2 separate regions of the Homo sapiens genome follow, and region 1 is linked to region 2. A link means that fine-mapping ties the variant in region 2 to the expression of a gene that starts in the linked region. Tissue or cell type: whole blood. Region 2 holds a variant in brackets; the other region holds the start of a gene. All regions are shown on one strand. Distances are from middle to middle.

Region 1 (5,374 bases), 35 kb before region 2:
AACCAGACTCTACTTTTGGTGGTGAAAAGGCCATTTCTGGCTCTGAGGACCCTTGAAAACACAACTGATTTTTTTTACTAATTTCTCTGAGGCTTGATATATCACTAGAATAAGACAAATACCTAAATTAACAGTAGCTTAAATAGTTTGGGGGTGGTTATTCTTGCGAATAGTCAGAGGTAGCTAGTTCAAGGCTGACATGATGGCACAGTGGTGTTATCAACAGTCCAGATTGGCTCCATCTTTCTGACCTGCCATCCTTAGCACAAGACTTTTCCTCTCAAAGACGATCATGGTTGCATACTGGCTGCTGCAGGCATATTGTATTCACAAAAGGATGATGATAACAAGGTAAAATGAAGTGGAAAATGAAAAGTGAGGCATGAGGCTGGAGAGGTAAACTAGCCAGGTCTCTAGCAGCCGTGTGGAGGGCAAGCAGAGAAGGGGCAGGGGATGCAGGAATTGACATGGGCAACATGGGGACCTGGTATTAAGGAATTGTAATGGCTCAAGCAACGCAAACTACAGATCTGAATTAGCACAGTAGCAATGTGAAAAAGGAATGAAATTGAGATATTGAAATGGTAAAATAGGCAGGAATGGCTGAGTAGATGTGAGGGAGTGGAAGAGGTCAACGTTGATTCCTAGGTTTCTGTCTTCATTTATGAAAAAAATTCAGGAAAAGCAGTCACTCTTTAAAGATGAATTCAGATTTGTGCACATTAAGTTCAAGATGTCTGTGGAACATATAAGTGGAGATGTCCAGCAGTCAGCTGGATATGAATATGAAGATAGGGGGAGTGGTCAGGGATGGAGACAGACTTTTGAATCATCTGCAAACATACATCCCAAGGTAAAAGAGTAGATACACTATAGTCTCCCAGGGAGCACACACAGCCATGGTTCTCAGTCTAATCCTGGGACACCAAATTATTAGTGGGTAAAGGAAAAGAATCTCAAGACCGAATGGTCAAGAAACCATTCTAGGGAACCAAACTAGGAGAGAGTGGCATCTCAGAAGCCAAGCGTGTCAAGGAAGGAATAGCTAACAGGATGTGTGTAAGGTATGTACACAAAAGAGCTTTGGAATCCATCTTGGGAAATATACAGTATTAGCTGTTTTAAGGAGACATGCTTTAAATATCAAAGCAAGTCATCCTGATTTAAAAAACTCCCACTTGTATAGAGGAATACCAGGATTTGAGCACCACCAAATGGAACTCATTCCCTGACATCCCAAAGCCATCAGAATAACAGTAGAAGCGTCAAGACAGTTACTATATGATTTTCCCTGCAAGACATTCAGTAATCTATGATTCCCCCTGCTTAAATTTTATCTCATGCCTTCTTCCCTGACCAGTTCAACACAAGCAGCCCTGAGATGTAATATCTTCTCACCCTGACCCTCAAAGTGTGTCTCATGCTTTCTAACAGAGGCCATCCTCTTGGAGGAAGACTTGTACTTTTGGCCTGTAGCCCCACCCTCCCTCCTATGGCGTTCTTACAGTCAGTTCTGCAGTGAGTGGGACACTTTCCAAATATAATAGCAAATGGAAACTTCTAATTACATCTGCACATAAAACTAATGTTCCAAATGGTGGTTGCGGTTCTGGTGAGTGCTTATAATTTTTTGTTACCTCAGCATCCATTTTTGAATATGTTTAACTTTTAATAACAGAAGCAAGTCTCAGTCACCATTGACAGTTTCCAGTACTATACCCCACGCAAATGGCTCTAGCTGGTGGCCAGAGATAAACATGCAGTGATGTGATAACAGGGCACTACTGCAGCTTCAAACTCTGGTTCAAGTTCCTCCCACCTCTGCCTTTTCACCTGCTTGCTTTTAAATCCACCAGTTAGAGCTCTCCAGAGGAAACCTAACTGGATAAAGTTGCTGGCCCAAAGGTCCGTTCCTCCCTTCCCTCTCCCTGTTCTCCCTGATCTCCGTGTGTGTGTGTGTGTGTGTGTGTGTGTGTGTGTGTGTGTCCTCTAGGCAAGCTGTGTACCACCCAGGGTCCGTAAGTACTAAAAACTCTTAAACTTTCACACCGCTGTGTTATTGAAACCATGCCTACAATCCAGTCCCTGAGGCGAGGCCACCCTGAAGGGACAGACTCATGCAGGCGGATCCCCTGGTCTTGCTCTTCTGTCCCTGCCTCTGGTGGCTGCTGGGGAACAGTAGCTACCAGCTAAGTTGATAGAGACACTCGAAGAGGTTCATTCAAAACACTGGTCCCCGAGCAGCCCAGTAAGCTTTTAAACGCATAACATTTTGTTTGGGTCTCAAACAAGTCACAAGGCACGGATACGGATGCGGCTGTGGCTGATGGCTATTTGGATGCTGCCCAAGCCTCGCAGTAGGAAGCAGCTTCAGACTGCAGCAGGGCCGCATAGCCCGATAGCCAGGCCCTGGGGCACCCAGGGCACCAGCAAGACGCACAGAAACGTTTTGAAAAACATTTTAATATACTTAAAAAAAAAGTAAAAGGGAAAATCAGAAGTCTTTGGAAGTTTCCTACTGTTTTTATGTCCCATAGCAAATCCGAGGAGGACGCCCCAAACTTTCAGTTCCCTGGGGTTTTGAAGGTGCTCATTGGGTCCTGGCCACCCGGCCTTCTCAGAACCTGGGCCAGGAGGCTGAGCTCCGCGCGGGGGTGGAGGGAGAGGAGGAGGTTCCTGCCGAGGTGCGGCTGCGCGGTGCGGGAGCCGGGAGCCTGGGAGGGCAAGGGCATCCTGAGGGGCGGGGCCGGGGGGCGGAGCCTTGCGGGCTGGAGCGAAAGAATGCGGGGGCTGAGCGCAGAAGCGGCTCGAGGCTGGAAGAGGATCTTGGGCGCCGCCAGGTAAGAAGGCCCGAAGGCCTGCTGGGGTTTGGGTGAGCCGAGCCGAGGTGGCGGCGGCAGTCTGGGCCCGGGCGGAGGGTCTGTGGGGGCTACCCCCGTCCTCGCTTTCCACTCGACCCCTGCCGGGCGAGCCTCCCGAGGCCTGGCCCTTCCAACCCGTCACCGCGGCCCGGTGTCCTAGCCGAACGCTGGCTTCATTTTATCTACGAGGAAGGAGAAACGGGGAGCGCGCCCTCTCCCAGAAGCAGCCCCGTTACCCCCGTCGCGCCCCCCATTCCCTCGGGGGCAGCCTCGCACCCGGGCCCCTGCCATCGCTTTCGTCTCAAGGGAAGCTCTAGCGGTCCAGAGAAACTGCGCCGGGGGAAAGGCCAGCCCTCCGTGGTCACGGCAGTTCCTCTCTCCCCTCGCGGTCTAAATGTGTAATTTTGAAAAGCAGGTGTCGGGCGAAACGGACTTTTTTTTTTTTTTGAGATGGAGTTTCGCTGTTGCCCAGGCTGGAGTGCAGTGGCGCGATCTGGGTTCACCGCAACCTCCGTGTACCGGGTTCAAGCGATTCTCCTGCCACAGCCTCCTGAGTAGCTGGGATTACAGGCATGCGCCACCATGCCTGGCTAAATTTTGTATTTTTAGTAGAAACGGGGTTTTCCCATGTTGGTCAGGCTGATCTTGAATTCCTGACCTCGTGATCCGCCCGCCTCCGCCTCCCAAAGTGTTGGGATTACAGGTGTGAGCCACCGCGCCCGGCCGAAACGGACGTTTTAAGTACAACGTGATGTTTTGTTTTCTTGGGTCGGCTCGGGCCGCACCCTTCTTAGAGTCTGACTGCTGACTTTTCAAAAAACAACATTAACCCGGGAGGCTGAGGTAGCGGTGAGCCGAGATCGCGCCATTGCCCTACTGCCTGGGCAATAAGAGCGAGACTCCGCCTCAAAAACGAACAAAACCCACAAAGAACAAACAAAAAAAACCAACATTAAGCAGTGTGCCTTTTATGGCCGTTTAGTGATACCCAGGCTCTTCACTGGTCATTTCTGGAAGTATTTAACAGCACTTGATGGGTAAAACAATAGGCTTCACTTCACAGGGTGGTTGAGATGATTGACGGAAAGCGCTCAGCACAAACGCGGCGGCTGCTAATTATTTCAGGTACCCTGCGATCCCTGAGCAGTTGTTCAAGTTCTCCACTCCTGGCGGTTTACTCCCAGTTCCCTGAAGAAGGCACAGAGCCCCGAATGTTGAGGGAGATGGCAACGTTTGCCAAAATGTGGCTATTTACGTGGCAGTTTATGAAGGAGAGGCAGAAAGGGAGGCTGCCTCCCCTACAAGCCAAACAGTCCTAAAACTTGTGGCCTCTGTATTTTCACAGTGGAAACTAGAAACTGTTTGCTGAACTTAGCTGTAAGAAAAACATCCCATTAGCTGAGTGGCTTAGGAGATAAAAGCCTAAATAAAATGGATCTTAGGGTGAGAGAGTGGGGTGCCTAATGGCATTCATCTTTGACAGCTGCTGGTAGAAGCTCTTGAAAAGTAGAGCATGGAAAATTCTGGGCCACCTCTTTAAGAACCTCAGCCAAACCGCCACAGACATTGCCAAGCCCAGAAGTGCTTGAGGCTTTCTAAAGGCAAAGACTTCTTTTTACTTATGTCCTATATCTTAGGAAACATATTCACTAAACCTTGGTTTTGCATGTGTACTTAACACGGGAGGGGCCGTGAGTGCGGAGATAGGACTCTTTGGAGAGTTAGGGATTGGCATTCCGGAACAAACTGCAGGAAAGGCCCTTGTAGGGGAAGCTGCAGATTTGTTTGGTCCAAAGAGTTCTGGCCTAATAAGTGGGAGCTGACCAATGAGAACACTTGGACACAGGGAGGGGAACAACACACACTGGCGCCTGTCGGCAGGTGGGGTGGGTGGGGATAGAGCATTAGGAAAAACAGCTAATGCATGCTGGGCTTAATACCTAGGTGATGGGTTGATAGGTGCAGCAAACCACCATGGTACACGTTTACCTATGAAACAAATCTGCACATCCTGCACATGTACCCTAGAATTTATATGTATATCACACAAAGAGTTTTGGAGTGGTTATTCCTGGCATGAGAACCTTGGCTGGATTGGAAAGCCTTTTCCGTTATGATGGTTGTTTTCTCTTTGTCTCTTCCTGCTGATGTAATTTGTTCCGTGAACTGAGTGATGGATGTTTGTCTGGGCGCTTCAACAGGCATGGCTAGAGCAGGTATTGTGTATGTCTCCAAGGTGACACGCAGACCTGGGGTTCAAAAGCTCTAGTTCTCTGACATTGCTGACACTAGGTATCTTGTGAGTTGCCAGCCCCTGGCGAATAGAAACAAGATCCATCCAGGGTGGTTTTGCGACTAACATGTTGCCTTGGGACAGGTAATTTCATCCCACTGGGCCTCCACTAATTTCCTATAAAATAAAAACATTGGGTTTTATTTTGAGGACACTTCTAGCCTTAAAATTCTTCAGTCTGTAAGGCCTCAGGCTCCTAGGAGGAGTAACCATACTCATG
Region 2 (5,328 bases):
GGATCTGATGGCTGACAGTGTGTCCAGATGCAGAGCTGGAGTGGGGGAGGGGAAGGGGGGCTCCTTGGGACAGAGAAGGCTTTCTGTGCTTTCTCTGAAGGGAGCAGTCTGAGGACCAAGGGAACCCGGCAAACAGCACCTCAGGTACTCCAGGCCCTCCTGGCTGGAGAGGGCTGTGGCAATGGAAAATTAGTGCCAACTGCAATGAGTCAGCCTCGGTTAAATAGAGAGTGAAGAATGCTGGACAGGAACCTCCACCCTCATGTCACATTTCTTCAGTGTGACCCTTCTGGCCCCTCTCCTCCTGACAGCGGAACAATGACTGCCCCGATAGGTGAGGCTGGAGGAAGAATCAGTCCTGTCCTTGGCAAGCTCTTCACTATGACAGTAAAGGCTCTCTGCCTGCTGCCAAGGCCTGTGACTTTCTAACCTGGCCTCACGCTGGGTAAGCTTAAGGTAGAGGTGCAGGATTAGCAAGCCCACCTGGCTACCAGGCCGACAGCTACATCTTTCAACTGACCCTGATCAACGAAGAGGGACTTGTGTCTCTCAGTTGGTTCCAAATGAAACCAGGGAGCAGGGGCGTTAGGAAGCTCCAACAGGATGGTACTTAATGGGGCATTTGAGTGGAGAGGTAGGTGACATAGTGCTTTGGAGCCCAGGGAGGGAAAGGTTCTGCTGAAGTTGAATTCAAGACTGTTCTTTCATCACAAACTTGAGTTTCCTGGACATTTGTTTGCAGAAACAACCGTAGGGTTTTGCCTTAACCTCGTGGGTTTATTATTACCTCATAGGGACTTTGCCTCCTGACAGCAGTTTATGGGTGTTCATTGTGGCACTTGAGTTTTCTTGCATACTTGTTAGAGAAACCAAGTTTGTCATCAACTTCTTATTTAACCCCCTGGCTATAACTTCATGGATTATGTTATAATTAAGCCATCCAGAGTAAAATCTGTTTAGATTATCTTGGAGTAAGGGGGAAAAAATCTGTAATTTTTTCTCCTCAACTAGATATATACATAAAAAATGATTGTATTGCTTCATTTAAAAAATATAACGCAAAATCTCTTTTCCTTCTAAGGGCCTTTAATATGTAATAACAAGAGCTAATGTTGAACACAAGCCATTGCCAGGTACTTAAACTGTCTCACTTAGTCTTGCCAACCTAAGCAAGTAGATGCCATTACTATTCCCATTATATTGATGAAAAAATGAGGTTGAGAAAGGTTCAGCCGCACAGCCAAATACATAGTGGATCCAGGGTTTGGTCCCAAGTCTTGAGTCCAAAACCCTGGTTCTTACCATTACTGTGGTTCTGTAGGGGTGAAAAAATTTTTCTTCTAATCTCTTAGGTTCAGAGCCTGGGGCCTGAGAATTAAACTGACAAAGACAGATTAACAGAAGACAAAGTTTATTACGCAGGTACATGGGGTTCTTACAGAAACAAAGTGAAAACCCAAAGAAGTGGCTTGAGAGCTTATATACAATTTTAACAATGGGCGATTGTAGAAAAGTGATAAGACAAAGGAAAAGAGGTTTGAGCTTCTTGGGCAGTAAATTATGGGAAGTTAAATATGTGGGGGAAACTAATGGAAGATAAGGGTATTTTTTATTTTATTTTATTTTATTTATTTTGAGACAGGGTCCTGCCTTGTCACCCAGGCTGGAGTGCAGTGCTATGATTGTGGCTCACTGCAGCCTCAACCTCAGCCTCCTTGGTTCAAGAAATCCTCCCACTTCAGCTCCTGAGTGGCTCCAGGCAAATGCCACCACACCTGGTTAATTTTTTAAATTATTTTATAGAGACAGAATCTCGCTATGTTGCCCCTGGCTGTTCTCAAACTCTTGGCCTCAAGAGATCCCACCTCAGACTCCCAGAGTGCTGGGATTACAGGCTGGGTGCTGAGCTATCGCACATGGCCTGTATTAGCCATAGACTGAGGGGAAATACATTTTCTTGAGAGCCTCAGCCTAGTGATCACTTGTATGAATAAACAATGATGGGTGGCTGCCAAAGTCAGAGAGCAAATACTGCGTGTGACAACTAAGTGTGGGAAGCTCAGTGTGGGAAGAAAAAGCTTCCCAGTTTCAGACATGCCCCTTAGTAGGGACAGCTGCCTCTTGTGTTTGGACAAAGTGTCCAAGTTCAAGTGTTTCACACACACACTGTTCCGTCTTCTGTTTGATCACAACCCTATGAGGCAGCCTGGTTTTCTTATTTCTATTTTATGGAAAACCTACTTAAAAGTCAAGCAACTTGTCCAAGGCTACCCAGCTTGAATATCTGACTCTCTCCACTTTGCTGCTACACACACACACACACACACACACACACTTTGCACTGTGTGTGCAGATACATATGCATATATATATTTAACTTGTGAAGCTGATACTGACTCTTTAACTGCCCTCCACCCATCACTAGTCATACCAGTGATCATTAGGCAGAGGCTCTCAAGAAAATGTATTAGTTATTTCCCCTCAGTCTATGGCTAATACAGGTTACTCACATAAATGAGCTGTCATGTCCTTTGGACAAAATGTCCAAATCGCTCATAAGCAATGGGTGAAGTATTTGAGGTAGGGCGGACAGGATTTCCTTTTGGTGGTTAGCTCGTTGCCTGTTAGCTCCTGGTGATATCTGTGTTTGGAAGAGAACTAAACTGCATTTCACTGAAAACACTCCTTCAGGTCTATTACAAACCAGATGAGGATCCCCTTTTCTAGAATCTTCCTCAACACTGCTAACGTTTGGCAGATACATAGGTTGGCTCTAACAGCCATTCCCAATCAATCCTCTTCTCCTTTGTCT[G/A]CCTCCCACAGTAGTGGATGAAAAATCAGACACTGATTTTCTCAGACTTCTTTGCTGTGGGCGCGGCCAGTGAGGCAATGAGGTAAGTCTGCTGGTGCAGGGGCCAGGTTTCTAGGAAATACTTTTCTCCCTCATGGGAGAAAGAGAGGAAGCCTGAAGTAAGCTTTCTTCTGCAGCCCTGGCCCGCTGCCTGTTCTGGATGAGGGTATGCTGGGATATGACAACGGAAGCCAGCGGGGTCGCAGAGCAAGAGCGAGGCGGTGGGCGGAGTCGAGGGACGGGAGGCGAGGCGAGGCGAGCCAGGGGGCGTGGCTTTCTAACTGCGGGGTGCGGCCAGCCGAGGTGGGCGGGGCCGCGTTCCGGGACGTGGTCGTCCGGGCTTTGGAACCCCGCCTGTTAGGGGCCGGGCTGAGGCGAAAGGGTGGGGCCGCGCTCCATCGGGGCGGGGCTTGTGGAACCTCGAAACCCCGGCGACTCGGGGCCTGAGCGCGCGTCTCCCGGCGCGGGGTTCCTCCCACGCAGACCCTCATTCAAACGATGCCAAAGGGGCGGCGCGGCAGCCACAGCCCCACCATGAGCCAGCGGTCGGCTCCGCCCCTCTATTTCCCGTCCCTGTACGACCGCGGCATCTCCTCGTCCCCGCTCAGCGACTTCAACATCTGGAAGAAGCTCTTCGTGCCGCTGAAGGCGGGCGGGGCGCCAGTGGGCGGGGCGGCGGGGGCCCGGTCCCTGTCCCAGGCGCTCCCCGCCCCGGCGCCCCCGCCCCCGCCACCACCCGGCCTGGGTCCCTCCAGCGAGCGCCCCTGGCCCTCGCCCTGGCCCTCCGGCCTGGCCTCCATCCCCTACGAGCCTCTGCGCTTCTTCTACTCACCGCCGCCGGGGCCTGAGGTGGTTGCCTCGCCCCTGGTCCCCTGCCCCTCGACCCCCAGGCTCGCCTCTGCCTCCCACCCGGAGGAGCTCTGCGAGCTGGAGATCCGGATTAAGGAGCTGGAGTTGCTCACCATCACTGGGGACGGCTTCGACTCCCAGAGCTGTGCGTGACCTCGCCAGGGCCACCGAGCCCAGCCTTAGCCTGCCCTAGCTCCCTCCTTGGCTCCGTGCCCCGACCCGAAATGTAGCCTGGTTTGACTCCAGCCCCCAGTAGTCCCAGATCCAAAATCTATCCCCTAGCACCCAGACTCCCTTATCCTGGACTTAACCGACTCCTCCCCCCACCACAGATCTGAACTTCATGAGCCTCTTAGTCCCAAACTCCATCCTCCCTCCGTCCTAAACCCTTTGGGTCATCTGGACTCTGAGCCTCCACACCTGGAACTCCATCCGCCACCACCCCGTCCTGAACTTTAATCCTCCTGCACAGTCATCCTCCTACCCTGTACTCTGGAGCTCCACCCACCACAGACAGTCCCTAAGCTTTAATGTTCGGTCCTAAACCGGGGCTCTCCATGGGGGGAAGGTGAAGTAAGGTGACTGTCAGTTGTCTGTAGGGGGAGGTGGGAGTTGTGCAAGAACCACAAGGCCCAAGGCCGTTTCCAGGGCAGCTTTGGGACACTCCACTTCTCAATGCTGGGGGGCAGCCCCCCTGGGACTCTGTGGCCTTGGCGCCGGTAGTTCTCTCACCAGGATCCTGGGCTGATATCTGGTCTTACGTCTGAAGTCTTAGGGCTCTGGACCACGTGTGCTGATGCGGGCAGGATCCCTCAGCCTACGAGCTGAATGACTCCTCCCTGTTGGAGGGTAAAGTTGTTAAATGCCTTGTACTCCAAGAAGGACCTATTGCAAAGTAGAACTTTCAGTAGCGGTAGGTTGTCCTGCAGACTTTGTCTTTCCCATCACTTGTTTTGGCTAAGGCTTGTCCTTGACCACTGGAGAAGGGCAGATAGTTCTAAAAAGATCATTCCAACTATCGTATATAACGGCTTAAGTTGGCTTCCCCTGCCACACAGAGAAGGGAAGTATGAAATAACCTAAATGCTTAGGTCCGTGTGGCCATGGAAATGGTCTTCAGTTCATCAGACACACTGTAATGCACCCTTTCTCATAGCCATGGAAGGAAGACAGTCCCTAGAAAAACTGGGCTTTGCTAAGTCCTGGATTTCTTAACTATGAATACATACATAATACTATGTATTCATAGTTAAGAAATCTTAACCGAATACATAGTTAAGAAATCCAGGGGCCGGGTGTGGTGGCTGGCACTTGTAATCTCAGCACTTTGGGGGGGCCAATGCGGGTGGATCATTTGAGGTCAGGAGCCTGACCAACAAGAGGATCATTGAGGACCAGCCTGACCAACATGGTAAAACCCTGTCTCTACTAAAATACAAAAATGAGCCGGGCTTGGTGGCACACATTTGTAATCTCATCTACTCGGGAGGATGAGGCAGGAGAATCGCTTGAACCCAGGAGGCCGAGGTTGCAGTAAGCCAAGATTGTGCCACTGCACTCCAACCTGGGTGAAAGAGTGAGACTCCCTCTCAAAAAAAAAAAAAAAAAAAAAAAATTAGAAGAAGAAG

The links.
Region 1: CD59 starts here. The variant in region 2 is fine-mapped to the expression of CD59 in whole blood (TOPMed, PIP above 0.99).

What each region holds. Positions count from the first base shown.
Region 1 is chr11:33,733,848-33,739,221 of GRCh38, reverse strand. CD59 (CD59 molecule (CD59 blood group)) reads left to right here and starts at 2,799. Exons shown (of 4, transcript NM_000611.6): 1 at 2,799-2,840. RefSeq lists a silencer at 2,681-3,150.
Region 2 is chr11:33,698,762-33,704,089 of GRCh38, reverse strand. It overlaps C11orf91 (chromosome 11 open reading frame 91), which reads left to right and starts at 3,264. Exons shown (of 2, transcript NM_001166692.2): 1 at 3,264-3,845. The coding sequence starts at 3,350. CD59 (CD59 molecule (CD59 blood group)) reads left to right here. Exons shown (of 4, transcript NM_000611.6): 4 at 1-1,080. RefSeq lists silencers at 3,089-3,328, 3,509-3,598. The variant G/A (reference allele first, on the strand shown) is at 2,813.